Linked DNA regions of Homo sapiens: all the other regions are linked to region 1. The links come from fine-mapping of genetic effects on gene expression. A gene starts in region 1. Each other region holds a variant in brackets. All regions are shown on one strand. Distances are between the middles of the regions.

Evidence for each region.
Region 2: its variant is fine-mapped to the expression of PKIB in whole blood (INTERVAL, PIP 0.92).
Region 3: its variant is fine-mapped to the expression of PKIB in blood mononuclear cells (TOPMed, PIP above 0.99). The same link has a PIP of 0.9 or more in lung.

The regions. Positions count from the first base shown.
Region 1 is chr6:122,605,870-122,616,368 of GRCh38, reverse strand. It overlaps PKIB (cAMP-dependent protein kinase inhibitor beta), which reads right to left and starts at 5,964. Exons shown (of 5, transcript NM_181795.3): 1 at 5,834-5,964. RefSeq lists an enhancer at 4,672-5,317 and a silencer at 5,934-6,113.
Region 2 is chr6:122,664,668-122,675,166 of GRCh38, reverse strand. PKIB (cAMP-dependent protein kinase inhibitor beta) reads right to left here. Exons shown (of 5, transcript NM_181795.3): 3 at 23-89. Among named protein-coding and RNA genes, the nearest start is that of PKIB, 60 kb to the right of the region's middle. The variant C/T (reference allele first, on the strand shown) is at 5,495.
Region 3 is chr6:122,704,079-122,714,577 of GRCh38, reverse strand. All of the region lies in intron 3 of PKIB (cAMP-dependent protein kinase inhibitor beta), which reads right to left. Among named protein-coding and RNA genes, the nearest start is that of FABP7, 70 kb to the left of the region's middle. RefSeq lists a silencer at 10,387-10,499. The variant C/T (reference allele first, on the strand shown) is at 4,335.

The sequences.
Region 1 (10,499 bases):
CTTCAACCTTCCAATCATAAAGCCATTACTCTTGCTTTCTACTTGTCAAAACAAAAGTCCCTTCAACCCTTCTCCTATTATGTCCTCTTATGTCTATGACTTGTTGATCATGCCACACATTTTGAAGCTCTACATACCTTTGTCGCTATGACAATGCCCTTTCCAGCTTCTCCTCTTGGGCTCTGACTGGAACTCATTTCCCAGGATTCATTTTTCTCCCATTTTCCTTCTGATTCCATGTGCTTCCCATAGGAGATCTCATCATTATATTTACCTACTGCATGCCAATGTCAACTCAATCTGCATCTTCTGAGCTTGTTATACAACAGCTTCTTGGATATCTTCACCCCAATGTATCTTTTACTCACACCCACTGTATTAGTTTGATAGAGCTGCTGTAACAAATTACCACAAACTGAGTGACTTAACACAACAGAAATTTATTTTCACACAGTTCAGAATGGCAGCAATCCAATCAACTGTCAGTAGGGTTGGTTCATTTTTGTGGAATCAGAGGGGAAATCTGTTTTATGCCTCTCTCTTAGCTTCTAGTGGTTGCCAGCAAACCTTGGCATCCCTTGGTTTACAGTTTCATAACTTCAATCTCCCCCAGCATTGTCATGTTGTCTACCCTCTATGTGTCTTTCTCTTTGTGTCTCTTGCCTCTTCTTATAAGGAAACCAGTCATATTGGGTTAAGAGCCCACCTTACTCTAGTATGACCTCATCCTAGCTAATTGCATATGTAGTGATCCTATTTCCAAATAAGGTCATATCCTGAGATTCTAGGAAGGACGTGAATTTTGGGGAGACATTATCCAACTCAGTACACCCATGAAGTCGCCCCATTCTTAAACCTGCATGTTTGTAAATTGTGCCAGCTCTCACTTCAAGCCAAGAATCTGAGAGGCACTCTTCATTCTCATGTCTTCTTAACTTCATATCCCAACTACCATCAAACTCAATTATTTTCATCTCCTAATATTTCTAGAATCTGAATACTTTTCCTCATCCCTAATTCTGCTGCCCTGACTCATTCAGCATCTCTTGCTTGGCCTACTAGAGCAGTCCTTCCAGTAGCCTTCAGATGAAACCTCCCCAGGATTACAACAGTATATACATATGCACAGCTTCATGGCATGTTAGAAAGACATATTTAAAAATTTTTTTTTTCTTTTCACTACTGCAAAAAGTTCTACTACTTCACTACAATACACAGAATTATCATAGACACCCTTCTTCAAGGATGATGGAACTGAAAAGAAGAGTGGTTTCTGTGAAGTCCTGGCGTTTATAAATTTTGGCTTGATAGACTTTTTGCAAACCCTTGGAGTGTAACAAAATCCACCATACCTATAATCTGGCTTTTCATTAGATTTCAAGGCCTTTTTGGGAAAAGTGAGAAAAGTAGGGCTTATTTCAGCATTTTAAAATTTAATATTATACCTGGCTCCAGAAGCTCCATGGTAGAGGTATTTATTTTCATTTTAAAATATAAAATAAACTAATGTAATACACTAATGTAATTGCATGAGTTGTAAGCCCTCTTTACACACACATGCACATACACATACACACACACTGATTTTAAGATTTTATGATTTTAAGAATTTTAAGAATGGTGTTTTCTTCTTCTGAGATGTATTAGCTCAATCCATAAAATTTAATCTAGATATAAATTATTTTGTGACCATTAAAATATAAGCATGCTTGAGAAGACTACCTAATTATTTCCTGTCTTCCATGGTTTTATTCCTGAAGCTATCACACTGGACTTCAGTTCTCCCTTTACTTTATCCAAAAAAAAAGAAAGCCTACAGTTTACTTACTCCCACACCCCCATGGGGATGCTTACTCCCACACCCCCACGGGGATAAGAATACTTTCAACAGCATAGCCAATAAGAGTGCTTAGAAGAAAGCAGAGACTGCAGGAAGGGAGAGTCTGGGAGGTACAGGAAGGAATCCAGCTCCATTCATATTGTCTGTAGATGCTTCTGTTGCTGCTTCTTCAATTACATTAAAACTATCTTGGCTACAGACCACATTGTCTTAAAGAATCTCCATTTCCTTGGCCCTCTTTCCAATCTGAGAAATCCTACTTCTAACAGATCCAGGATTCTAGGTGAGAATACCTCTTCCCGTTCAGGAAATTATGCAAATCTAGATTGTTTTATTTTTATCTAAACATCTCTGAACTCTCTTCTCCAACCAAGCACCCAACTCTTGGGCAATGTCACATTTTTACAACTAGGAGTGACTGAAGAACACAAATCCACTCTGCTCTGGGCACATAATACTGCTATTTGCCACTTGCTAGAATAAAAAGTGTACCTCAGTTCAGTAAAAAGTAGCATATCCATTTGATTTCTCAAAATCAACTGTAATTCTTTTTTTTTTTTTTTTTTTTTGATGGAGTCTCACTCTGTCACCAGGCTGGAGTGCAGTGGTGCCATCTCAGCTCACTGCAACCTCTGCCTCCTGGGTTCAAGCGATACTCCTACCTCGGCCTCCCAAATAGCTGGGACTACAGGTGTGCACCACCACACCCAGCTAATTTTTGTATTTTTAGAGAGACGGGGTTTCACCATGTTGGCTAGGATGGTCTCTACCTCTTGACCTTGTGATCCGCCCACCTCAGCCTCCCAAAGTGCTGGGATTACAGGCATGAGCCACCACGCAGGGCCAAAACCAGTTGTACTTCTAATAAAAATAAAAAATAGTAGCTGTCTTTGATTTTATGGGGATGTTCAAGTGCTTAACCTAGATTATTTCCATGTAATGTCACTACCTGGTAATGACTTTTTTAAAGTACATATAACATATGAAAATGTCTGAAACTAACAGGATTTAGAGGAACATGTACTAATGGGGGAAGTTTTAAAACAGGAAAACCAGAGCCCTGGTCTAATATGTGATTTTTGTATATGGAAATCACTTACTCTTGGGCCTTAGATCCCTAAATCTACTAATAGAATATGCTTAATTATTATTTAAAATAATTATATGGAATCATGATTAACAATGCTTATCACAAGACATATAGTTCACAAGACGTATAGTTTATTTTTGATGTTGAGGAAAGAATAATTTTGTTTTTTCTAACTCAATTAAAATTTTGCATTGAAGAAATGGAAAACCACCGAATTTATTGTCCAGCCATTCAGAGCTGGCTAAGTCTCAACACTTAAAATACAATTTTCAAACTGCATGCTTTCTCATTTTCAATTGACATTAATGAAAATTTAGTCTTGATTAAGCCTGATTCATGCTCATTTAGCATTAAAAAACATTAGGCAAGAAATATCTCGTTTCTGAGAAATATTGCGACATTTTTTTCAAAAGTGTTTGCTGTACCTCAGCTCTAAATTTGAAGAGAAGCAATGGTTCCTCTCCCAAGCCTCTCTCTATATACATATAACATCATATATGATCCAGTAAGAAACATTTATTTTTCCAGAATTTTTTAAATTTTTATATATATAACTTCTACAAAAATTACTCTATAGTGTTCCTTAAAAGTTAGACACAAGTTTGTCATACAACCTACCAATTTCACTGTTAAGCATCTACCCAAGAGAAATGAAAACGGGTACTCACAAACACTTGAATGCAAATGTTCTCAGCAGCATGATTCATAATATTCCCATATTGGAAACAACCCAAATATCCATCCACTAGTAAATTGACAAAATGTGGTATATCCATACAATGGAAAACTATTCAGCAATAAGAAGAAATGAAATACTGATACATGCCACAACATAGCTGAACCCCAAAAACATTATGCTAAGTAAGAGAAGCCATAAGCAAAAGACCATATAGTATATCATTCCATTTATATAAAATGTTCAGAAAAGGCAAATCTATAGACTGAAAGTAGATTAATGGTTGCCTGGGAATGGGAGTGGGAACAAAGACATAATGGACATAAGGAATCTTACCAAGTGAGTAAACTGTTCTAAAACCAGATATGGTAATGGTTTTACAATTTTGGAATGTTCTAAAACCAGATATGGTAATGGTTTTACAACTTTTAGAAAATTAACAAATTTTCTAAAACTCACTGAAATATAATTTTTAAATATTATTCACCCTTAAAGGGTGAACTTTATAATATATAAATTATATCTCAATAAAGTTGTAAAAAAATGCTGTAATGCAAACTGCGTAAGAATTTAAATAATTGTAAGAACTGTGAGGAAAATTAAATTGATCTATCATTGATCTAAACAATATGTTTGCAATCGACTAAAAAGGAGGAAAAACTCTTTAACAAAAATGAAATTTGACACATTTTAAAATATTCTGCATAATGTGGTCCATTAGTCTTTGATATTTTATTGAAGAAAGTTGTGGTAAAGATAAGATTGAGAAGTCCATTACTAAAAACGTTTTCCAAAAGATTTCCTTTCCAAAGCTATACTTTCCTTCAAAATCGAATCTTTTGAACTTCCAAAACACCTTTTTAGCAAATGATCTCTTGAGATAGTGTCACTAGGGGGGCATTGACCAGCACCCGGCACACTAACAGGAAACAAGGTTTATAAACTGCTGATTTAACCAAACTTGATCCATAACCTACCCCATTTTCCGTGAGCATTATGGTCATCAGTTCTCATTTTAATAATCCAAATGCTGAGCTTTCTAAATATAAAATCCCAGGAGGATTTTTTTTGAATGTGTGGCAATGTCAGTAAGAAGGAAGGCATCTTGTGAAGAGATAAAGTGGACAGATGAATTTTGAAATCTATCTGTACACGAAGAGAAATGCAATACTCGCAATATTTCTAATTCAATACCTTTCAGTATGCAAACCACTGATAAAAGAGTTTTTTTAAAATTTTTTTTCTAGATGAACGTTTAAGTGGTCATTCGCCTCAAATCTCCACTTTCCAGTCCTGCACAGACTCCAGCTAATAACACTACCACCTGCAGGGTGTTTTGTTGTTTGTTTGTTGTTTGTTTTAGTGCTTCCCACATGCCTAGTTCACGCATGCACTTTTCTAAAGGACCCGAGTTCCGTTGGCTGCGTTCCCCGGGGAGCTCTACGAAGACCGGTCTGACCTGGCCCTCTCAGCTCCCTTGGAAGGGACCTGCTGCAAGGCAGGGTCATTTGGCTCCGAAATGCACCTTCAGGAATTTCCCCAAGGGGCTAGCATCAGCACCAACCGGAACACAGGCCCTCCGCTCCCTCAGCCCGCGACCACCTGGCACTCGTGTCCCTCCCTGCGGCCTGCCGGGGTCCTAGGAGCAGGGAAAATCCAATAGCTACGGGCGACCCTTGAGTTTACTCGGTCTACCCACCTCCATATTTTATCCAAAGAATGGACGGAGGCCAGTGAGGTGAGGTGACTTGGCTAAAGCCACACAGCCGGACGCTGGCCGAGCGGGTTAGTACTCGGGTCTCTGCTAACCCCGCGGCCGCTCGTGACTACCCGGGGCTTGGTAAGCACCGCCCAGGGGAAAGACTTGGCATTGCTGGCGCGAGAGCCGAAGGACTCAGCGACTTGTGACAGGAGGTCATCAATGGCCACCTGCAGGGCAGAGTGGGCAAAAGGCAGGTGACAGACCTCCCACGTCACGCCTGTTGGCGTGAGCGTCCTTTTCACTCTCTAAGTACCCTGACTTGTGAGTTAAACGATGGATCGGGTCGCCCAAGCGAAAGAGGCATCTGCTTCGAACTCCCCCCATATTTGTGCCAGCAGGGCAGAAAATAGGAAAGTTGCACTTACCACATCTTCCCTGGGTCAGTCTCCCCCGACTTCCCAAGTCCCACTCCTCCCTCCTCGCATAGGGACACCCACTCACGCGCCCGCTCCACCAGGTACGTACCAGCCGCGCGCAGCTGCCTGCCCTGCCGGTGCCCTGGCGCTCGCGCTCGCCCAGCGCTCTGCGGCCCGGAGCTGCGACTCGGGCTCTAGCTCGCTGCCGCCTCTACAGTCCACCGGGATGCGGCCGCGTCTGAGCTACTGGGCTGGGGCGCAGCCAGGCGGTGGCAGCTACTCGGGGGCGGAGGGAGCGGCCGCCGCGTCCCGCCCCCAGGCTACGAGCGCGGCTCCCCAGGCGGTGTCCCGCTCTCCGTGCAAACCGGGCCACCGCATCACTCCCCGGGGCACGTGCCACGGTAGCTTTTTTCTGCTGGCAGCCTGGGGCGAGCTCTTTTATCCTACTTGTGCGTTAACCACCAACTAATTATCGGTGATCGTCACACAACCCGCGTCCTCCCCGCCCGCCACTCCCAGTTCCCTTGGGCGATGATGAGGTTCTGCTAAGATTTCTGTGACGTGACTGCGGGAATTTCAATTCCCTTCCTGCTTTCCGACGTCGCATCGTGTTTTCTGTCCCTCCGGTTGTACGCGCCCTGAGCAGGGTTTGTGCTCCAGGTGTCATTAAGGTTGCCCTTTGATCTAATGTTGGCTGTTTGGAGAAGGTAGGAAGGTACACAGGCTTATCTACGCCCCGAATCTGGGTCTTCGAGTTTGTTAACAGATTATTTTAACAGATTAGGAAGCAATATGCAATGGAAACAACTTTTTGTGCAATAAAAGCAGAAAATAATGTATATCAAGTTTCACTTTCAGGTTCTCACTAAGAAAAATAAAGTCGTTACTACTAAGGTCTCACTGTGCTTTTTAAAAGCCATATTACATGGACGACGATACTGCTGATAAAATTAATTTATCTGCTTCCTGAGAAAGTGGTTTCTCACTGAAGTCTTAAAATCTCCTCTGGTCTCCTGAAACTCTTAATTAGTACTCAAAGTCTTCTCTTATCTCTAGTCTTTACTAATTTGCTCATTCATACTATGCTCTGACTTGCCACCCAAAGCCTATGACACCTGCCAATGACCACTTCCAAATTCCCTTTTTAGGCAAAAGCCTAAATATGGAAATACGAAAATATAATCAGACTAATATTTTATTCAGTGTGTGCTAATGGTAGTACAATCAAGTTCTTTAAATTATTCAATATTCATACCTCCACAATATAGTAATAATTTTCTCTATTTTCAGATAGTAAACTGAGGTTCAGCAAGGTTAGATACTTTGAACAAGGCTAAATAGCTGAGAAGATTCCAAATCAGTTTTGAACTTAGGTCTTTCTGCCTTCAGGATTGATTGACTTCCTTAAATTATACTCTGCTAATAAAGCTGTGATTTTTCTGAATTGTGATGTAGGCACATTTTGTTTTGTATTAGGTTAGTGCAAAAGTAATTGCAAAAAAGTACTGGCAAAAACTGCAGTAGCTTCTGCACCCGCCTAATAAAAATATAGTTACTTGTGTGGTTACACAAGCATTAATCAAAGAGACTGAGAGTTATTTATATCATTAGTGTAACTTTAAAACTTATTATCTGGCATACTGCTAAGGCCTGTTATTATTATATTATATAATAACATATATTTTTATTATCTAGGGCAAATTATTCTAAGGTTTATTTATTTTAGAGGTACTATGACAGAGAGTGATACTAAAATGTTTGAACTTATGAATTATGGTATCATGATTGGATTTTTATGATCCTGCAAGTGTATTTCCTATACTTGAAAATTTTGCTTTGTAAAATCTGTATTTTGGGATCAATGTGAGAAAACCACTAGACCTCACTGCTAAGCTTTTAACCTACATATGAAATCATCAGAACCACTGGAATGTATGGCCCATGAAGGCCATATCCTCAACACCTAGAATAGTACCTTCACAAAGTAGGTACTCTACAGGCCGTTTTGAAATGAATAAGTATTAACTTTGTTTCCACACTTAAGACCAAATAATGACTTATAAGAACACTATTTATAGAATGCTTTTGTCTATTTAGATTTAAGATTTTTGATGGCCTCTCATTTCTACTAGGAAAGTAAGGAGAAGATGCGGAAAGGTTTGCAGTAGCTGCTTTTGCAAATGTTAGACACGACCTGACCATAAGTGCAAGGAGGAGTTTTTGAGTCCAAGAATTGGTGGTAGCAGTAATTCCACACAATCATGTGAATTGTGAATTTGTGTCAAATATATGCCTTTAAATGCAGAAAGTTTAATCCAACTTTGGGATTGTGCCAAGTGATGTGATGAAAAGACAAGGAGCAAGCTTGGATACTATTTTTAAGACAAGGTTTTAAGGTTAACAAGAATAAATAGGAAAATAAGTGAGGACAAAGAGGGGAGAAGAAGGAAGAGTCCAAGAACTACAAATCCACATCAAATGAGAGAGATAAGTTGTAGTCAGGAAATGGGATCGTTTTCTTTGAAGTTTTAGAAGTACAAAGATAGACAGTTTATGGAAGAGCTAAGGGTGGGGTTGGCTGACGTAGAACGAAGATCAAGACATTAGGGACTAAGGTATTGAAGAAACTATATGGACATTGAAGCCACCAACAGTAATACCAGAATGAAAAAAGGAGTGAGTTTGATAACAAACACTTCCGTGAATGTAGTGGACTGATCCAGAACTGAGAGGATGACTATGCAAAGTTGGGGCAGAAGGTGCATATCCAGGGAGGAAAAACGTAAGTGGATCAAGGACTGGTAAAAGAGACAATTAAGACTTCAGAAGTAATACTGGGGAGTTACAAGGATCCCAACACTGCCCCTGTGACCCTAGAATGTGAAACAATGAACAGTCTATATCAAAGGGACATCTAGGGGAAATAATTCTTAGAAGAAAGCTTATTTCCACTTAAGGCCAGAAAATGGAGAAAGCATTGTGTAAATAGTTTATGAGGTTGGTGGTATTTTTCAATATTAAATGAGGATTCTCCAAGGTCAGAGTAGTTAAGAGGTGGGAGGTAGGGCTGGCTTCGTGGGTCTATGACCTGTTCAGTTGAGCAGGGATCTACGTGTTGTTTGTTTTTGAGACAGAGTCTGACTCTCTCACCCAGGCTGGAGTGCAGTGGCCCAATCTCGGCTCACTCCAGACTTGGCCCCCCAGGCTCAAGCAATCTTCCCACCTTAGCCTCCAGAGTAGCTGAGACTACGGGCACACATCACCACACCTGGCTAACTTTTGTGGGTTTTTTTGTTTTGTTTTTTTGTTTTGTTTTGTTTTGTTTTGTTTTTTTGTAGAGACGGGGTTTTGCTATGTTGGCCAGGCTGGCCTCGAACTCCTGGGCTCAAGCGATCCACCCGTCTTGGCCTTCCACAGTGTTTGGATTTCAGGCATAAGCCACATGCCTTGCTCAGGATCTACTTTTAAGAAGGCCCTGTGCAATGTTTAATGCTCCCCTGTCCCTGCATTGAAATATTTTATTTTATTTTATTTTATTTATTTATTTATTATTATTATTTTTTTTTTTACCAAGGGGACTTGCATTTTCATCTTTCATTGAGCCCAGCAAATTATATAACCAATGCTGTGTGGAAGAAAGTAGAAATTCTTGCATGGGTGAAGCAAGAATCAGTATTTACCTTCTAGGGATTAAAGTTTGGGAAAGACTAAATGCAGAAGTTTGTATTTTGAGGGAAGACCAAGAGATGCAGGGAGAAGGATGTGGCTGCAAGGTTTCAAGTGAGATCTAGTTTTCACATCTCTTTAGGGCCAGGCTGGCTGACACCTGGGCAGAAGAAGTGGACAGTAGTTACCATCATCATACTCCATGTTTTTATATGCTGGTGGGTTAGTTTTTTTAGGGTTGCCATTAAAAATTACCACAAATTTGGTGACCTACACCAGAAGGAATTTATTCTCTCACAATTCTGGAAGCCAGAAGTCTGAAGTCAAAGTGTTGGCAGGGTATCACTTCCTGTAAAGACTCAGGGGAGAACCCTCTTTTGTCTCTTCTAGCTTTTTTTTTCTTTTTTGAGACAGAGTCTCACTCTGTCACCCAGGCTGGAGTGCAATGGCGCGATCTCTGCTCACTGCAACCTCTGCCTCCTGGGTTCGAGCGATTCTCCTGCCTCAGCCTCCCAAGTAGCACGGATTACAGGCACATGCCACCACACCCTGCTAATTTTTGCATTTTTGCAGAGACGGGGTTTCACCATGTTAGCCAGGCTCGTCTTGGACTCCTGACCTCAGGTGATCCGCCTGCCTCAGCCTCCCAAAGTGCTGGGATTACAGGCGTGGGCCACCATGCCCAGCCCTCTTCTAGCTTTTAATGGCCACAGGCAATCCTTGATTGTCTTTAGCTTATAGCTACATAACTCCAATCTCTGCATCCATTTTCACATCTTCCCTATGTTTCTTCTCTACTGTTGGCATTGGTATTCCCCTCTTCTTATAAGGACATTTGTCATTGGATTTTGCATCCACCCAGTTCATCCAGGATGATCTCCCCTGGAGATCCTTACTTTAATTGCATCTTCGAAGATCCTTTTTCCAAGTAAAGTCAAATTCACAGGTACCAGAGGTTAGGTCATGGACATATCTTTTTAGAGACCACCATTCAGTCCACTGTAGCCAAGTCTATGGAGGCCAGAGGAATAGCAAGGCTGGATGACACTGGCATGATAGCTCTTCAGGTCTATTTGGCAAAGATAACTACAATAATATGAACCTTATCA
Region 2 (10,499 bases), 59 kb before region 1:
TAAAGAAGAAAAGGATACTTACAAATCTCTGATTAAAATATGTTGTTATTTCTGAGACAGGTTTAAAAAATTCTGATAAACTTTCTTTCCTGCAAATTAAAAAAAAAAACTATGAAGAACCAGAAAAGGTGGCAATCCAGTTAATCAAATTTTAATTACTTTTGGCTTTTTAAAATATTTAGCTAAAACTGGTAAACATCATGACTTGCCTGACTTTCTCGGGAAAAGCCGAACCTCTAATTCAAACATAAAATTTTCTATTAAAAGTCAAAAGGATCTTATTTCAAATAACAGTTATTAGTTCCCAAGATTATCAGCTACAAAATCCAGTGGATGATTGCTGCATTGATGCTGTTAAGGATCATTGCCAGGTTGAGAAATCATCGTGTAAAAACAACTGATCATTACAGGAAATATTTGTAGCCACATAAAAATGATTGTAGGACAATATTTGGCATGATACCACCTTTGGAAGTTTGTAGAAACACACCAGACTTTGAGAATATAATTGTAGAGAATCTTCTGCACCCTCCATAAGTATTCTAAGGCATTGTACCAATATTACCAGTACCCACATAAGGATCATGTCAAAGGAATCGAACCATCTTGCTCTTGGAAATCAAAGTAAACTACCTATATATTATTCCTATTCACAGAATGGGCCTTATATTTCAGGACTTAGCATCTGGCATAAGAAGGGTGAAAAATAATGGGAGTATGAACCGTCGGTATGCACATTAGCCACTCATAGCAATAAGGCACTTTGCAAATTCCCTTCACCACACTCTCACTGCCTTAGTTCAACCTACCATTCACTCTTCCTGGACTGTGGCAACAACGTCCTAATGATTTTCTTGTATGCATTCTTGCTTCCTGCAAATCCATTCTTTACACAGGTGTCAGGTAGAATTATTTCAAAGTAAATATAGTCATGATCATTCTACAATTAACCCTTATTAGTTTGCCTATCACCTACAATATCAAGCCCAAATCCCTTCACGTGGTACATGGTGCCCTCCAAGAACTAGCCCCACTCCACTTTTCCTTCCTTTTCACCCATGCCCAACCTCCACCAATCCTAAAACTCTGCAGTCACACTCCACCAGTAGAATCCTGTGCTTTATTTCTGTCACCCCTGTGGCTGAGTTTCTTTGCCCTCCATCTCTTCCCCATCTCCTTGCTAGTATATCTTCTTCATCTCTTCTGGGTCAACTTGGGCAACCCTTTCCAGAGCCTTCTATGTCTTCCTTAGTCTAGGCAGGTTCCTTCCTATGTGCTCTAAAACACTCTGGTATAGATCTGTCTTTGTGCTTATCACAGGCATTACACATTTCAGTTTAGTGTCTGCTTTTCTGCTGCAAACACATTTTTTTAAGCCTTTTGAGGGCATGGACTGTGACTCATTTGTCTTGTTCCCAGCACAGTGTTTCACAGATGGTAGGAGGAGTGCAATAAATACCTGTTGAATGTCAAGGTGCATTAGGTGTTTTTCAGACTTGGAGCTGCCTGAATGCGTATTTTACCACCTTGGAAGAATTTTAAAATTAAAAGCAGACATCATTTTAACCTTGTTCCCATACTCAGTTTCTCAAATGATCTTTGCTCTTCCTCTCACTCTTTGTCTGGGACTTTTTCCTTCAATGAGTCCTATATGTCCAGACCAAATAAAAGGAACTGAGAAGAGGAAGTGAGAAATAAATGAAGAAATGATGATACAGTAAGTAGCAAAAAGATAAAAATTTGTAAACTTCAAAACTTATATAATGTAATGTAAATATACACACCTAAAAGACATGATTAAGAAAACAAAATTTTGTAGTCTTAATATTTTCAACCATTTGGATGCAGCTCTTGGCAAAGATCTAGTAGAAACTATAAATAAGAATCTAGTTTAAAGTCTGTTAGATAAAAGTAAACATTGCTATTTGCATTTTAAAAATGCATGTTTAAAATATCCCTATAATTTTATAACCTTTCCATGATTAATTTTTTTTACAGAAATCCACCTATCCTTGTCTATTGCAACACAACCAAAATAAAAAAAAATGAGTGAAATAGTTATGTTTTTCCCTCTCCACTTCTTTCCAGTTTATTTTACAAACAAATATACCTATGTGGTGGACTTTGAAAATATTTCATCCATGTTTTTTATTACTAATGTACATAAAAATTCAGATTTAATGAAGATATGCTTAACACAAAAATACTAAAGGTTGAGACTGTGAGAGTCTCTACTCATCCTTTAAAATATCACTTATCAAATATTTTACTAATGAAAGTGCAGTAATTCTTGGGAAGATTTCAAGAACAGTAGCACGCCCCTAACAAATATAAAAATAATTTTTGTGTGTACATATCTCCTATATATGAATATTTATACTATAAATTATAAGTATTACTATCCTAATAGTCTAATATAACTTATTTGCTATATTATTATTATATATGTTAAATACATTAACAGACATTAAAAATAAAATATAAATAGATATAATTAGATGTTCTAATATTTTTTCATGATCCTCAGTGTACGATGCAGAATTTGCATGTTTCTACCACACGAGGTCTGATTCTTTCTCCATTCTCTCTCCTGAAACTACAACTAAATCAAGAGAAAACTTGGTGATATACATGGAAGCTAAGACATATCAACAGCCAAAAAGCCAGTGGACTCATCAAGGTGTATTGATACCCTTTACAAAGGGAACAGATCAAAGTATGGGTGAATCAGCAGAAATTTATCACAGTAGAAACACATGCACATTCAGAATTAGCAGAGATGTTGAATGTCATTTAGTTCAATCATTTTCAAACTATTGTTTTTAGATGAGGAATATTTTCTTTTTAAATGAACCCCTTAGCAGAAGGCCTACACTCAAGATGGATGCAAGCAGAACTGCTCTGGGTACCTCGGGCTTCAAGGTCTGATGCTCTACTCACTCCCTTCCCTACTCTTCTCCTCCTTCTCAGGGAAAACTACATGTCTACACTGCCACTTTAGAGATGAGGCTACCAGGCTGGAGATGGAACAAGAGCAGCCTTTTCAAGAAAGATATAATAATGTAGCTAAAAATATTCATCTTGGTGCTTGTCCATCCTCCTTTTTGATGGACAATCAGTATTTGCTTGCAGGAACTGATTTCTCTGCATGTCCCAAGCTGACCTCAGTTGTAAATATAAATACTTAAACCATTAACTAACAGGAATTAAGGTAATTTTTGGTACTAGGGTTTGGTAAAACAATAAATACTTATTTTTTCTTCCAAATATATATTTTCTAACTTGAGTTTTAATTACTCAAGCAGCCAGCCATGTTAACATGCAAATAACATGCATAAAGGAGAAGAATCTATCAGGTCTGAAGCACAAAATTTCAGGGGGTGCCCAAAAGCTCAGAAATCAAGATAAATAACATGTAAATGCCATACACTGTAAAAATAGAAATTTATGCAAAGATCTATGATGAACAAAATATCAAAGTTTTAAATACAGATTTAACCCTGAACTTGTATAAGTCAGCCTCATGTATCTCACCTGGTTCAGTGACTTCTCTGAAAAATGAATTGTAAACATAAAAATCATGTCAGGTTAGTTACATTATGCAAATTTCTGCCTCAAAACACCAAGGACTGTAGAAGGAGAAGGAAATGTAGTTTGGAGGACAAAGTTCAGTCAAAGGCATGTTCCGGTAAAGGCTTTTACACTTCAGTCTGTAAGACTGGGGATCAGGTGAGGTTGCTTGGGAACAAATAAGCAACTAGACAACTGTAACACGAGATAAGACCTAACCTATGCTTTCATTTGAACTATTTTACAATGTCAATGAGCTACTAAATCTAGTTATAGATACTTCAATAAGTATTTTTTTTTTTTTTTGAGACAGAGTCTTTCTCTGTCACCAGGCTGGAGTGCAGTGGCGCAATTTTGGCTCACTGCAACCTCCGCCTCCTGGGTTCAAGCCATTCTCCTGCCTCAGCCTCCCAAGTAGCTGGGATTACAGGTGCCCACCACCACACCCAGCTAATTTTTGTATTTTTAGTAGAGACAGGGTTTCACCATGTTGGCCAGGATGGTCTCTATCTCCTGACCTCGTGATCCGCCCACCTCGGCCTCCCAAAGTGCTGGGATTACAGGCGTGAGCCACCGCGCCTGGCCTCTTCAATAAGTATTCTTTTAAATTTTTGTTTTGTTTTTAAAAGCAAGGCATAGTTCTAAAATACATAAAACCCTGAAAGTTAAAATGTATCCACTGAACATCATCTGACTATGTGAAGCAAGTTAACCACTTCAACTGTAAGACCTAGTTTTAAAAGTCTACTCTTAAGAGGATGCATTTAACCTCTCAAGCACTACAATGGTGAACACAATCATCACAGAGATGAATCATGGTGACATTGAAAATGATGTGCATTCATGAGGATGTTTTCTGTCCACCAACTCAAATGAACTAGCTTAGGAGAATGAATGACTCTGCCTGACACATAGTAAGTACTCAACATACATATACTAAATGAATAAATTAATGAAATAATAAAAGTTGAAAGATGGCTGGCAACAGGTATACTAGGACCAGATTATAAAGAATATTGAAACAGAGACTTCATGCTGTGGGCCACTGAGCAAAGGTCTGATGAGGTTTAACAACAACAACAACAACAACAACAACAAAAACATGTGATTCCTTATAAGAAAGAATGGGTGATGGGTGGATTGGTAGTAAGCAAATAGCAAATCCAGCAAAAGTTTTTAGAAATAGCCTTGGCAATGGGCAATAAGGGCCCACCAAAGGGTGCAGACTATAAAACTGGAGGAAGACGAGTGTAGGGAATACTGCTGGCTGGCTGCTATTTGCTCCTCTCCCCCTTTCTATAGAAATAGAAAGTTTAGCTGGGTACACAGCCACAGATAGTATTACCAAGCTTTCCATGCTGCTAGGTCATGCAACTGGATTTCTTCATTAAATATGGCTAGGTGCAGAAGTGATATACTCCACTTCCAGGTTACATACTGAAAGAGAAGGGAATGTGGTCTCTCATTCCTCTTTTGCCCTTTCTGAAAACTGGACTGCATCTGTTGCTGCGAGTCATGCTTCATGAGGTGGACAAACACAATACCTTGGAGATGACAAAGCAACTAGATAGAAGGGGCCTGCATCCCTAACCTGGTTAAGCCACTATACCAGCCCTATAGCACCTGCCTGGATTGCACATAAGATAGAACTAAACTTACATTGCGTTTCATCCACTGTCATTTTTGGATTTTGCAATAACTGCCAAACTGATGTCGGAAACTAATATATATGGACATAAAAAGAATTTACAAAATGGAAAAATCCATGGAATGTGGTGATAGGCTACACCGAATGAGGGAGAATGATGAACTCAAACAATTTCAAGGTTTTATGCCCAGGGAACTAGGACAATACTGGAACCACCAACAAAATAACAGGTGAGAGGGAGATGGGTGGAGTTCAGATGGTGGAAAACAGCCAAGG[C/T]GGGAGCTGAAAGTATGGGCCTGGAACTCAGACAAAAGGAAAAATTTGAAAATAGAAATGTCAGCAATTTTGTATAGTATATACAGATGAAAATGTGAAAATTAATAGAATCTAAGACTAAGATCAGAGAATGCCAAAAGCTGAATGATGGGGTATTCTCACAAAAGGCAGAAGAGAGCAGCAGTAATCAGCAAAGGTTAAAAAAAAAAGAATGTTATTATCCTACATAGGAAAGGGTTAATGATTAAAACCATGGAATAATAGAATTAACCTTGATTCAAGCTGACAAACAAATTTAAAGGGAATCTAATGTGGGCTAAATGTCTTAAATCCATTTAAAGCTCCCAAAAAAAACTGAAGCAATCATTTCTTGAAATAGAAAGGCATTAATTACAGTTCTGAACAAGCCAGATCTCAATAATTTCTTTAGTTTAAATTTCCAGAATTCCAAGAGAAAAAAAAACACCCAACAGATACCTATGACATTCTGTCCTTTTTAAATTCTCACAATAGAGGAAGAAAAGAGGTGACAAGAATGAAGGGAAAATGAAGCATAAGTGCCTTTCTACTCACATATTCTTTCTAGGAGGCTGATTGTTTTTGTTTTGTTTTGTTTTTTTAATAGGAATGGGGTCTCAATATATTTTCCAGGCTGGTCTCAAACTCTTGGCCTTAAGCAATCCTCCCACCTTAGTCTCCTAAAGTTTTGGGATAACAGGAGTGAGCCAACGCACCCAGCCAGGGGCTGATGTCTGTAAGTAGAAATGGCAAATTGAAACAAATCCTCCTCCTCAATTTTTATTGTTTCATTGGAAGATATGGTGATTTAAATTTCACATTAAGCTTTGAAGTTAATAAAGTTGGCAACATAGAAGCCAACTGTTATATATAAGAAGAAAGAGTTTGGGAGTCTGTATCACTTGTGAGATGTGCTAATATTCCTGGAAGGTCATCAGCATTCCAGAACATTCAGGCAATGTTATACTAGGCCCTCCAACGGTTCTTCTTCCCCACCTGGCTTGGTTGATCCAACCAGGAGGACATTTTTTAGGGAGAAGTCAGACCGAAGATTTCTGTTTTGTATTCCACTGTCCACTTCATATTGACAAAACACACCATTTTAGCTTTTTCTCTGAAGATTGTTTTCTCTCTAGTTTTAGTCTGCAGAATGTGTAGTATAGCTGCTTAAGGGACATCAGGAAAGACTCCATTTTTCTTTACCAGAACATTTTCATAAAAGTCGATCATACTAATTCACTTAGTATGAGAAATTGATATCCCTCTCTCTTCCTTTGAAGAGAAATCGGTTAGGAATCTCCTTTTTCTCTTCACATAGTGACTGCATTATCCACGGTCTTTCCAATTGTTTGGAAGACAGTTTCACTGTTGTTTTTAGTGTTATCCTTGAATCCTATATACAGTATTCTTTTAAACTCTTAATACTGGTACACATTTTGGGATTCTAAACCCTGTCATTTTTTTACTTAATGACCAGACAATACTTTTCACTTCTCCAGGTAGATCAGAGTGTGAAAACCTGCTCTAAAATGACCTTTCCTTTACATATGGTTGCAGAATAGCTGAACAAAGATTGCTGTACACCAAGAAATTAGCTTGAGGGGAAAGAAACCTTCTTTTCTTATTTTGAGTTGGAGTAAGAGAAGAGTGTGTATATGTTAAGTGGGAGCAGGGTAGAGGGTGGGGGTTGCATTTCATGACACAGCATTCGACACACAAAATTGCCATTGCTTCACTCCTGTCTGTCTGTATATCTTTTCAGGTGTGGCCTGTGTGGTTCTAGAATTCCTGGCATTTAAATATAACCTGAAAGCCACTCAGATCAATCTGGAAAGAGCTTCTCTTTACTTTTTTACCATGTGCCACATAAAAACCACAGCACCAAAACAGCAGATTCACATTTTTTTTGTAAACTATTCAGTGCTTCTTAATGTTTGCTTGCAAAGCCTCAATAAAAGAAGTAACTTTTAATTTTTTTCCATAACTATTAAACTTCTTAGCTTATATTACTTTCTTACCTATATTATAATCCTCAAACACCAACAAAAAAGTTCATAAGCTTTACATTATCTTTCATCTCACTTACAACTTTTATTTTTATTTTCATTTTTATTTTTTTTGAGACAGTCTTGCTTTGTCCCCCAGGCTGGAGTGCAGTGGCGTCATCTCGGCTCACTGCAAGCTCCGCCTCCCGGGTTCATGCCATCCTCCTGCCTCAGCCTCCTGAGTAGCTGGGACTACAGGCGCCCGCCACCACGCCCAGCTAATTTTTTGTATTTTTGGTAGAGACGGGGTTTCACTGTGTTAGCCAGGATGGTCTCGATCTCCTCGGCCTCCCAAAGTGCTGGGATTACAGGCGTGAGCCACGGCGCCTGGCCGACTTACAACATTTTAATAGGTATATCTGAGGTTAAAGAGGAAATTGTTAGGCATCACAGTTAATTTTGATGTTAATTATAAAATAAATTGAAAAAAGTTAAGTCTAACCCCAGTATTGTTACATACATAGACGCATTATTTCCATCTGGCATCTATAAACATTTGTGCTCACAGAAGAAGGCCAATGAAAACTATGTTAAATATAAAAAGGAACATACCAACTCACTGGGAGGAAAGGGAGCAAACAATTGTGGAGTGCCCATGACTTTCTAGATGCATTAAACATTCTCTCACTGAATCCTTTCAAAAGCCATAAAAAAAAAAATATTAGTACCATTGGATGCCTAAGGAAGCTTGAGGTTATAATCGAACCAGTGCCAAGCAAGGTCAAGTCATGAATCCAGGTCTGTCCGCCATATGGACTTAATACTAGTAGTAGTGGTTGACTAAGTCGATTCACAGGAGCAACAAAAAGAAATATACTTTTCAGACTTTGTCTGAAAGTAAAGTTGATGAATTATACTTTAGAGGTCACTTTTGATATATCCCATATTTTTTCAAAATGGTTTCTATAAGATACCCTCTTAGCATTATAGATTAATACCAGATGTTCACTCCCTACCTTGATAAGATCAGTAACCTGCTCAAAGGAGTCTGGTCTGTTTCAAAAAGCACACAGAAATGCGCCCATGAGGGCAGCTCAAGACTACTAAGAGATGTGTTGTCATATTGCGTATCCACCAGAAAGTGACTTGATAGACTCCTAGAGGTGGAAGAGAAGTAAAACAAAAACAAAAACAAAAACAAAAACAAAACACAACTAGCACATATCCCCAGTTTTAAAAAATGTTTTTGAAGTAGATATTATATTTTTGTGCCCTTTTGAGTCAGTCAAGATACTGCTATTAAACGGACATGATTTTGGTTAGCTAAATGAGCCCTTACAAAGCAATAAGCCCTTTGAACTTCAGTTTCTTCTTCTGCATAGGTAACCTGTTGGAAATTTAAGGGCTTTTGCAAGGTTAACCTGTTTGAATCTGGCTGAGAGGCAGTGTCGATGGTGAGTGCACTGGGCAAAGGAAGTCAGATGGTCATAAAGGTTTGGTCATGGAAGGCTAAGGCTGGAAAAGACTAACATTAAAGACAGTATAATGCTATGCACACGAGCTTTGGAGACAGACTGGCTCTAGAACATAATAGCTATATGACTTGGGGAAACTCGGCTCACATTTCCTTATTTGTACTGTGGAAATAAAACTTCCACTTCACAGGATGTTGTGAAGATTAAATGAGACAATGTCCGAAAAGTACTTAGTGTAATTCCTAACACATAGTAAGTGCTTAATAAACAGAAGTTGCTATTATGACTATTCTTTATACCGAAGGAAAAACTGTGCTTTAGAAGGTTAAAAGACTAGCACAAGGTCACAGGCCATTCCTTTACTGAGGTGTCAGGTTAGGGGGTGGAGGATAAACTCAGCTTCATCAAAAAACAATTACCTCTAAATAACCAGTTATATGCATAGGACCAGAAAATATCTATGAAAATTTCAAATGCATTTTCAGTTTTTTTTTCATTAAAAACTGACTTTACAACCAACTTTCTTTTTTCCTTTCCCTAACGTCTGTTTCCTTTCAAAACTAACACTGTGTGAATTCCTGTGTGATTTTGATCTCATTATTTTTTGAGCTGAAGGTCTCTCTCCCGAGTCTACTTTGTCCTAACATTGTCATTGCTATTTCATTCTTCTATATCCTAGAAAAAGCACACACAGCAGAGAAATGCATTAGAAGGATCTTATTCAGAAGAATATTTCTTTGCTAACTATTTAACATGCTGCAGATTTAGATGCTTTTATCTAAATAAGATGCAGATTGTTAGTTTTGAATTTTAGACTAAGAAAATAATTTGAAATAAAATTTTGCAATAAATCCATTTTAAAGGGCCCTTTGAAGAGTGACTCTTAAGCATTATCTGCAAGAACAATCTCTCAAAATAAACTGGCCAAATTAAGGTTTCGTATTTTGCTCAACAATAGACAAAGGTTGAAATGTTCACTTCTGGTTTTCCTACTTATCTTTACTAAGCAATGCAGCCTAACCTTATTTTTTTTGTCATTGCTGTCATTTTGAAACTTTTTTTAACCCAGGTATATGAGTCAACAAGAACAAAAACAAGCTTAATTTTACTAATTCATGATCTTTCTAGAACTGGAGAAGCATTTATATAAGTTCACTGTATTAGGCTGTACAGGCTGTATACTTCATGGCTGCCATTCACTCTAGTCCAAGGAAGACTAATAGCTAAATGTAAACACTGTTGATGTCACTAAAGTCCAAATTTGAATTTTAAAATGTATTAATATTCTTTTTACAAAGGTTTATTTTTCCCTAAAGGGGCGTTTACTAGGCATTCTAAATTCTAAACATTACAATTATATATTTGCCTTTAGAAGATGAATTATTTAGATATGCTTCACTTTAAGGCATTACATTAAATTAAATTTAAAGGCAAGAAGGCTATAAACAAAACAAAAATAAACAACAACAAAAAAAATTGACAAAAATATATTTAATGTCACACCAGGAACAGTGGCTCATATCCGTA
Region 3 (10,499 bases), 98 kb before region 1:
TATTTCAAGATTATTTTGCTGCTAGCTGACTGCTATTTTGGAAGTTTTTCCTTTTGCCTTTATATTATTATTTCACATAGAGGCTTTCTAATTAGTCCTTTTTGTAGATCGATGCTGGAAAATAAAAGAATCACAAAACTATCTAAAAGTTTGTTAAAATTATATTCATTAACTACTATTTTAAGATCGAAAACAGAAGTGGCCATATAGGGAGGCTAAGTAACAAAACTGTTTTACTTCGGGGCTGTACTTGGCTGTGGCAAACTCACATTTGGCACAATCTTCCTTTCAGTCTGCCACTGATATTGACTGACCAAGATGTCATGCTTCACCAGAGGCAGACCGAATAGCTAACCCCGCCCAGCCTCACAGCGATGTAGGAAGATGGCACTTTCTACAGAGAAAAGCTATTTTCCTGACCAAATGTGTCAATGGCCTAGAAATTGGTGGCAGGAATATTTGAATCCACAAGGTGACTCTTAGCTGGGCTCTTTAAACTCCAAAGCAAAGAGATTTATTGTACCACTGGAGACAACCTGAAAGCCCAACAAGAAAAAAAGTATCTGAATAAGCTATGTAATTATGTTATGGAATGTTATACCACAGTGTTAAAGAATGTATTAGATCCACTGACACACTGTGAAATAAAGCAAGTTTAAAAATTAATATTTATAGGGGGAAAAGGGGAGAGCATTATGAATGCAATGTAACCTCAACTTTATACAAATAATAAAAATTCTAGTTGGGAACGGAAGGTAGAACAAGGAAAATATTAACCTTTTTCTCTACCTCTTTACATATTTTCACTTTTACTAATGAGCATATATATTACCTTTGTAATTTAAAAGAATTGAAAAATCCACCTGGAAAAATTATAAATAAACAGATATTCTAGCACAGAAAGGCTCTAAAAGTAACATTTTGAAAATTTAACCAAATGATAGCATATCGTTAAGTGAAAGCTTCTCCTTCCCCCAGTAGCCATCTCTCATTTGTCTGTTGTTAGTTTTCTATACAACACCGATTGCACATGCTTGGTTTTTTTAAAAGGGGCGATATACATATAGAAAACAGACAATTGCTCTCTTCAAATGGCTTGTGATAATTATAATATATAGCCCACAGAAAGATGAGGAAATACTGCAGAGAAAAATGACAGATTAACTTGAGGGTCTTTTCATTTTCTGGGCTTAAATAGCTAATTATGTTATGTTTGCCAACCAAGGCAGCTGACTCACTAGCAACTCTTCCTCTTTCTCTTCTAGAGAATTAACAAAGGACTCTAGATGAGTGCTGCTTTGTCAACTGTGGCTGCTTACAGGAGCTGGAACCATTTAGACATTTGGAGATTTCACAAAAGTCCTTGCAATCCCACAGCAAGGTAACGCAATTTACGTTGCCTGAGACACACTTCTATCTCTATTGAAAATATACAATTTTCAGGCTGCTTGAGAAAAGACTATTACACAGTCATATATATATTTATATATGTATATACACACATGCCAGCATCTTTACAGTCTCTGAAATATTGAGAATGCAACATCAGCACTACTCAAGAGGACGAGATGTTCAAGATAAATGGAGCACTAAAGGCTATTAAAAAATCACCAGTCAGAACCCAGTGGGCCCCGAAGAGCCTGCTAAGAAAAAGAGGATGTTAGTATGTTAGAAGCATAATTATAAACAAACAGAAGTTTTGCAAACTGTTTCCTCCCCACAACAGGTCCATTTTCTTAATTCAAACACATTATTTTCTCAAGCTTCCTTACTTGAAGCCAAGATTGCAAAATGGTAGATCCATTCTTTTCTCATCTCCAGATACATATCACTCACCCTATCTTCCACAGTGAAACCATTGCTCATTTTATACCTAAGACTTCAAATAAACTTCTTGCCCGCTAAATTAGTTCCCTGGAGGTATGAGTCAGACTTTCTGAAAAAACACAAAATAACAAAGAAGTAAAAACATGCATTTTGGAAAAAATGTCAGTGCTTTTCCTGACCAAAGACTAAGAGAGAAGGAGAGACTGACAAATGGACAGACTGACACTGGTCTCCCCTGATAACCAAATGCCTTATCTACCTCTCTCCAGCTCTCAGTATCCTAATCCCTTATGCTACATGTTTTCAGTTCTCTGCCTACGAATTATTTATTTCATATAATTTTCTGTTTTGAAACACACGAACCTCTTCCAAAAAAGGCGAAAGAACTAGAATTACTTCTTTATGTGCCAACAAAAACAGATCATTATTTATTCATTCAGTCATCTCTTGAGCTCCTACTAAATTATTAAGTGCAAAGCCTTGTTGCTGGCCCACAAGTTACAAAGAGGAACCCAGAGTCTGGTGAGATGAGACACAGTTTGATCTTTCTAGTTACCTTTCTTGACCTCAAATCCTATTATTTGGAAATAAAGTAAAATTACCCACTCCTAAAATGTAAATGCTTTACATATCTCCTATTCACTTAAGTATCAAGATCATTTTAAGCTAAACAGAACTTACATGAAATGTAGACCTGCGTAATTTTTTTCAACTTAGAAACTTTCCTGTCTTTGAAATTTTTCAAAAGATGGTATTTCTCTGTCTCTAGTGTAAGTCAAAGGGAACCCTACCTTTGGTTTGTTGACACGCACATTTTTTAATGTTTATGTTCTTGCTTGCTAATTGCATAGACAGATCCTTCAATATACATTGGTAGGCACATGGAAGTTATTTTTACCACAGAGAATTTTTGACAGCTTAAACATATAAAATTCAAAATGCAAAGTCAAATTAATTTTTTCATAATTTTCCAGATAAATTAATGCACAAAGCTGAATACCCTTCCAGCACAATGTTACTTCTTATACTAACATAAGGCCACTTACAATACTAATATACATGAATGTTGTTAATGATAAAAAAGATGGACTGCAATAAACTATGTAGCCTCCTTGAGTATGTGTCTGTGTTTGGGGGAGTCAGATTTAACTGGTCATCTTATTCTTTTTAGTTTCATACTAGAAAGACTTATTCAACATGTATCCTCCATAAAGGTTTGCAGGGAGTTAGTTGGGCTTCTCCCAACCACTTGCAGATTCCCAAAAGGACTAATAAATTTCTCACATGATTGCAGGATATTACATTTGAAAAGATGATATAGTCCAGACTTCCAGATCCAGACACTTAAGTGATGCATCAATATAACATAGCTTAATTTGTGTCAAAGTCTTTCCTAAGTTTAGGCGGTACTCTTTCTTCCATTACCATGATTCCTCCTGCTGCTTTCCGTAACAAAAAACAAAAACAAACCCAGCTATCTACAGGGATAAAAATAAAAAAGAAAATTCACTGTATATGAAAAAGTCTTTCTAAAAATTAAACAGGTTTCCTTTTTAATACATTAGCTTGAGTGGGGTGTGTGTGTCCCTGTGTGGTGTGTGTGTTTGTGTGTGTGTGCTATGTATATTGGGTGTTATCCAGAATACAGTGATATTTTCACTTCTCCTTTAGATGAATATAAGTGGTTATAACCATAGCAAAGCATCCCTACTGTCTACATTTTATATAGTTTAGCTTTTATTTCTAGCTTCAGAGTATTCAGAATTGAGAGGATTTAGCACGGATTTGAAGAAACCCTTCTCATTCTTTTTTTCCCACCTTACCTCAAACCCTATTTATACTCCTTCACTTTCATTTGTTTCACATTATTCTTTCTAACCAGTGACTCAAATATTGTTGGTTCTTATTTTATTGAGGTACTGGAGCCTGCTTAAAGAAGTTAGGGTTCAATTCAAAAAGCATTTATGTAACACCAACTCTGCAAAGCCCCACGCTAGATACTGTGGAATTTGGCACAGTAAGTAAGGTCTTCCCATGCCTTAACTGGCAGTCTGTGAAGGCTGCGTGCTAGCACCTTTACCACGTGAGCAGTGGAGGCAGCGCTTAATTCCAGGATAGAAAATGAGGCCAGGCTTCACAGGGAACACAGCATTTAATGGAACCCCAGAAAATAAGTAAGCAAATTTCAGAGAAGGGCTGCCCTCAGACCACCCATTTCTCATTTAGTTGCTTTTCCAACTACTATTGTACACAAAGTATTCTTAGATTTCAAAGGGGGCACAAATACACTCCAAGTACACAAAATCCCCAGCACTGAATTTGCCCTAGTGGGAAAATAATGTGATTTTGAAGTTCTTGTGTACAATGTGATTTTGAAGTTCTTGTGGTCTGCTTGTACTCTTCCCTACAAAGAGGGAACACGGCCGTCTGTGTTGGGGGTTTACATGCAAGGCCTAAAAAGTCAGTTCCCTTTTCAATGAGATATATGGTTTTAAAATGTCAAATGG[C/T]GGTTTATGACATCAGTAGGAAGAAGAGAAGGGGAAGTTAATTCTTACCAATGTGGTCACAATAGAAATGGCTTCATATCCCTCTGCCTAGTAGAGAGACTGGAACATATCTGCTTAATACAATCAATAAATCAATGTTGAATTAATAGCTGATACCTATCGATTATGAGCTGAAAATGAAGGTCCTTTACATTATTAATATTCATAATAAAGATCAAAAGTAAATAAATAATAAGACTGAAAGTTCAGTTATTCAGTATTAAAATAGATTTTGTTTTGTTAACATCAAAATAGATAGGAGTCAGGCTGTAGACTAATGGCAAATACAATGGTTTTTAGATGTGGGTAGTAAACCTGGATTGGTAGAGCCAGAGCAGTAGTTGCTGCAAAAACTCATACAGTACGACCCTCATCTAGGACATCTGATGGTTATACACATGGACACTTTAAATTTTAAACTTTCATTTCAGAAAGCATTTATAATTAATATATACTTATTTATCTTTCAAAGGGAAAATGCAGTGTGATACCAAATAATAGAACTATTTTTACTAACACACCAAAATTTATAGATGGAAATGAGTATCATCTATCAAAGCAATTACTTTAAGTAGCCACATATTTATTCCACTTCTGAAACTGTTTTTGTGACTCCATCATTGCAACTCATTTTATACTCATACATCAAATAGTGGTAACATGTTCTATTTAAAATATAACGTATTTTATAGTAAACTGTTTTTAATTAAAAAAAAAAACTCCCACTTGATCCCATCTCTTTGTACTAAGAATGACTTCAGCTACTTTTCAAAACCTCCTTAGGTAATTTAGATTTGCACATATTCAAAATAAAACTATTTTAAATGATGATTTGAAAGCAGAGCTTTGGGCACTACTTAACTGCATTAACACACTCTCAAAGTGACTGCCCTTAGTCCTCTTGTTTGTTACACGGTCTATATGGAGCAATGGGAAGTTTGGTCGCCTAAAAGTGAACACTTCTGAAGTTGAATCCTGGACTTTCAACTTCTAGAAAGACATCTAACTTCTTTGTTGATTAGCATTCTACATTTTTAAAAAGTAGGATTTATATTATCTATTTTACTACCCTGGACTCAAATGAACTAATGTTATAAATGTGCTTGGTTAACAACTACACAAATGGAATTTATTTAGATATCAGTCATATAAATTTATAGGCACTATGACAGAGTATCATTATGAATATCAATTATTCTTTTAAGCAACAGTGTTGACGTGGCTCTAGAGACAGCCTCTGATGTTGGACTGTAGGCAGAAAGAGATTAACGCAGCTGGGCGTGATGGCTCATGCCTGTAATCTCAGGGTTTTGGGAGGCTGAGGCAGGCAGATCACCTGAGGTCAGGAGTTTGAGACCAGCCTGGCCAATATCTACTGGCCAGTATCTACTAAAAATACAAAAATTAGCCAGGCGTGGTGACGCATGCCTGTAATCCCAGTTACTCAGGAGGCTGAGGCAGTAGAATCACTTGAACCCGGGAGGAGGAGGTTGCAGTGACCTGAGATCACGCTACTACACTCCAGCCTGGGCAACAGAGCAAGACTCCATGTCAAGAAAAAGAGATTAACTCTGAGACATTTCCAGAAAGTTGATATTGTTTAAAAAGGCATTCAAAAAATCATTTACAATCTGCTTCCCAGCACACCCTCAAACCTGTCTACGTTTCTGCAACATCTGAACCATACAAGTCACCAGTCACAGAAAACCATATCTCCCCTACACTGCCCATAGGAAGATTTCTCCCTAAAGGTGAAATTTTCACATACTTTCAGAAACAAACCATGTTTCAGTGTTCTCTCCAATGGTTAAAATGGGATTGAAATTCTTGATTTCTTCATGATGCCTAAAAAAGCATTCTTAATCTGAGTAATATTAAAATGAGATAATATGGCATAGGAAAAAGGGTCACAAAAGATAATATTGACAGAGTCCTGCTTTCTCAGTGGGGCTTGCTTTAACCACCTTGTTTAAAATTGCATCTCATCCCTCCAGCTTCTAATTCCTCTTACTTTCTCTTAGCACTTACTAGCTTTGAAAATGTATTCGCATTTACTTATGATTGCAGTTGTTGCTTATTGTCTGTCTCCCTTCACTAGAAGGTAAGCTCCACAAAGCAGAGCTTTTGTTTTTGTAGGTTGTTTCATTGATGTATTCATAGGACCAAAAGCCATGCCTGATTCTTATTCAGCAAGCACTCAATAAATAAAATAATTGTCTTTCCACTTTTCAACATGAATTTTTTTTCTTTTTGCATATGACATTAATATATGCTTGTTGTTGGGAAAAGGACAATTCCAAAAGACATAAAGAAGGAAAAAGAGATTGCCATCCCGCTATCCAGTAACAGTGCTGTTGTAATTCTGGTGCATAACCTGCCAGAATTTTTTCAGCGGCACATATACAAGAATATCACAACATATTTTACACACCATTTAGTTTGAAGCTAGATGATATTTATTTGATATCATTTTATTATATCTTAAAAATGCAATCTTTCTCAAATCAACATAATTCAAAATTTCTAATGACAGTTTTGAAAAAATAAAATTTTCTTGAATGTTAACATTAGAGAGCATATACCAACTATGTAAAATATGCATAGCCAAAAAGCAAGGAACATGGCTGAGTACTGAAATTACTTATAAATGTTTCTTTAATCGGATAAATAAAATGGGTATAAAATAGATAGGTATAATGCTTTTTTAAATGCACCCACAGTTTCGGTAGTGTCTTTTTCTTCTATTTCATCAATTTAAAGAAAAACTCTTAGGATGTCTCTTAGCCCATATTTAAATGAATATAATATTCATTTTTTTCTTCCAACAAAGAAAAGGAGAGAAATGATTAAGCCTTTTTGAGCTCTGATTTGTTTTCTAAGTTATCTTCGGTACTTTACAGAAGAAATCATTATAACGTTGCAGCAAGCAAAAAATTCAATCAAAATTATGGGAACAAAAATTAAGAGTAGTTTTGAGAATTTTTCTGGGTCATAGAGGAAAAAAAATCCCAACCAAAGGGCAAACAACTTTAGAAAGAAAAATCATCTAATTGAAATATTTTTTCATCAAATTATGCATGTTTATATTAACCTGCAATTAAGTTAATAGAAGTAGCATTATTTAAATTGATACATTTAACTTTTATAAAAACATTTTGTACAAAATTATGTTACTATAGTCCTTTAGTACTATATAAGTTAAATAGAAAAATGAGGCCATGAAAATATCTAAAATATTTAAAAACATAAATTTTCAAAATTTTAAAACCACTATGCATATATTAGTTTTAAAATACATTCACAGAAAAACATTTTAAGGGAAATATACTGAAATTATAATAGTTATTCCCTTTGTGTATGTTATTATTAATGATTTCTATTTTCTTCGTTGAATTTTACTTTTTTCCAAATTTTCTATAATGAAGATTTTTATGATATGAAAAATGGCATATGCATGTGTTAAGCATGCATTGTTTTAAAGCACTTTATTGAGAATTTGTTCATGTGATTCTACACTGTGGATTAGTCACTACTGTCTTCATTTTAAGGGTGAGGAAACTGACGATCATAGAAATAAAAGGGTTTGGCTAAACCTAGCTAGCAAGTAACAGAGACAAGACTGGAACCCATTTCATCTCACAACTCATTATTTTCTCCTTAAATTACACCTCAGCAAACATTTATTGAGCACAGACTCAGTCCTCATTCAATCAATTATTGTTAAGCATCTACTATATCTTCCGTTCAGTGCAAGACTCTGGGGAAACAGTGGCAAATAAGACTAAGCATTGTGATAGAAACAGTGGGGACACATGAAGATGCTTAATATATGGTCCCCACCCTGAAAGAGTTGTGAACTCATCGTACAGATGGAATATGTTGCATATTAAAGGAAATGTAAAAATAGAAGTAAATATATGATATATTCAAATAAGTGTTATAAATAAAACTACTATAGAAATGTAAAAGATAAATGGTTACTGAATTTTGGGGTGATTAAGGAATATTTCACAAAGGCTGTAGAACACACACAGAGCCTCAAAATTTGGGAGGAATCCACACAGGTAGAAAGGGAATGAAAGGCTTACTAAGCCAGAGAAATATCTGTAAGCTAAAAGAGGGGAGTGCAAAAAGCAAGTTCTAAATAAGAGAAAAGGAAACATTTCGCTGCCATGGAGTGTTATGCCCACGTGGAGTTGGAAAAATGAGTTGGAGCATAGTCATAACATAGTGGGAAAGAAAATGAATGCCATGAACAATATGTGAACGTATCCTGTAAGCACCAGGGAATCATGAAACTTCTAAATCACATAGTAAAGGTGTGTATGAGATGCATTTTCTGGCCAGGCGCAGTGGCTCATGCCGTAATCCCAGCACTTTGGGAGGCCAAGGCAGGCAGATTACAAGGTCAGGAGATCGAGACCATCCTGGCCAACATGGTGAAACCCCATGTCTACTAAAAATACAAAAAATTAGCTGGGCGTGGTGGCATGTGCCTGTAATCCCAGCTACTTAGGAGGCCAAGGCAGGAGAATCACTTGAACCAGGGAGCTGGAGGTTGCAGTGAGTCGAAATTGCGCCACTACACTCCAGTGTAGCCACAGAGCAAGACTCCGTCTCAAAAAAAAAAAAAAAAAAAAGATGCGCTTTCTGAAAATAGAGACAGATGTCAAGGAGAACCATTAAAGCATATTAAAAGGTGAAGTTTTTAAATCAAATCTACCACAATAGAGTAATAAGCTGATTCCAAAAATTTATATGAAAATGCTACAGACTGAGAATAACTTCTTATTCCAAAAAGAAAGGAAAAAGTAAAGGACTTACACTATCAGACTTGATGGCTATTAATTCTGTGTGGTATTCCTCAAGGGTAGACAAATAGAATACAAAATAAAATAGACACTCTAGAAATAGACAAATACACTCTTATTGTCCATTGATTTCTGAAAAAGGCTTTGATTATCAATGTGGTCATTGAACCATGATGATCTTGGAGGACTCACAAAGGCACCACAAAATTAGATATTGGTGGAGAAATTTTTGATCATGGAAACAATAGATCTTGTTTATAATAATTTGTGACAAAAATTCTAAGGATTATTAAATAGATGGCTTTCAGCTATAGTGTTTTTCTGGTATATTTTATTTTTAGACAAGGTCTCCCTCTGTTTCCCAGACTGGAGTGCAGTGACATGATCACAACTCACTGCAGCCTCAATTGTTTGAGCTAAAAGCAATGTCCTGTCTGCCTCCCGAATAGTTAGAGCTACAGGTGGGCAGCATCACACTTGCCTAATTTTAAAACTTTTTGTAGAGTTGAAGGATGGTCTTAAACTTCTGGCCTCAAGTGATCCTCCCTCCTTGGCCTCCAAAAGTACTGGGGTTTCAAGAAGGAGCCTCCACCTGATTCAATGATCAACACTTTGCTATATTTAATCTCTCTAAACATAAACACACACACACACACACACACACAGTTATTATTTCACCAACTGAAAGCAAGCTGCCATTAACATGACACTGCATATCTAAATACCTTAGCATATATCTAAGTATTTAAGAATTGGTCTTCTGTGTATATCCATCATACCGTTATATTTCCACAATGTTATTTTTTTCATGTTCCAATTCCTGAGATAATTCACCTTTTCTCCTGGAGTTTAGCCTTTGAAATTCTTTTGGGAACTATAGTTTTTTGATGACTGAAAAGATCTATTTTTATCTTCATTCTTACAAATACACTATTTTAGGATGAAAGCACCTAACAATATTATTCCACATTATTCTATTTTTGCTGTTAAGAAGTTTGCTAATTGTGATGGCTAATTTTATATGCCAACTTGACTGGGCTACAAAGTGCTCAGATACTTGGTTAACCATTTCTCGGGGTGTGTCTGTGAGGGTGTTTCCAGAAAAGATTAACATCTGAATCAGTGGACTGCATAAAACACATTGCCCTTCTCAATATGGGCGGGCCACATCCCATGCATTGAAGTCCTGAATGGAATAAAAAGATAGAGAGAAGGAGAATTTCTTTCTCTGCCTGTCTTCAAGCTGTCTTCAGTCTTCAATCTTTTGCCTTAAACTCAGACTTGGCCTGGAACCGACAATAGTGGGTCTCCCGGT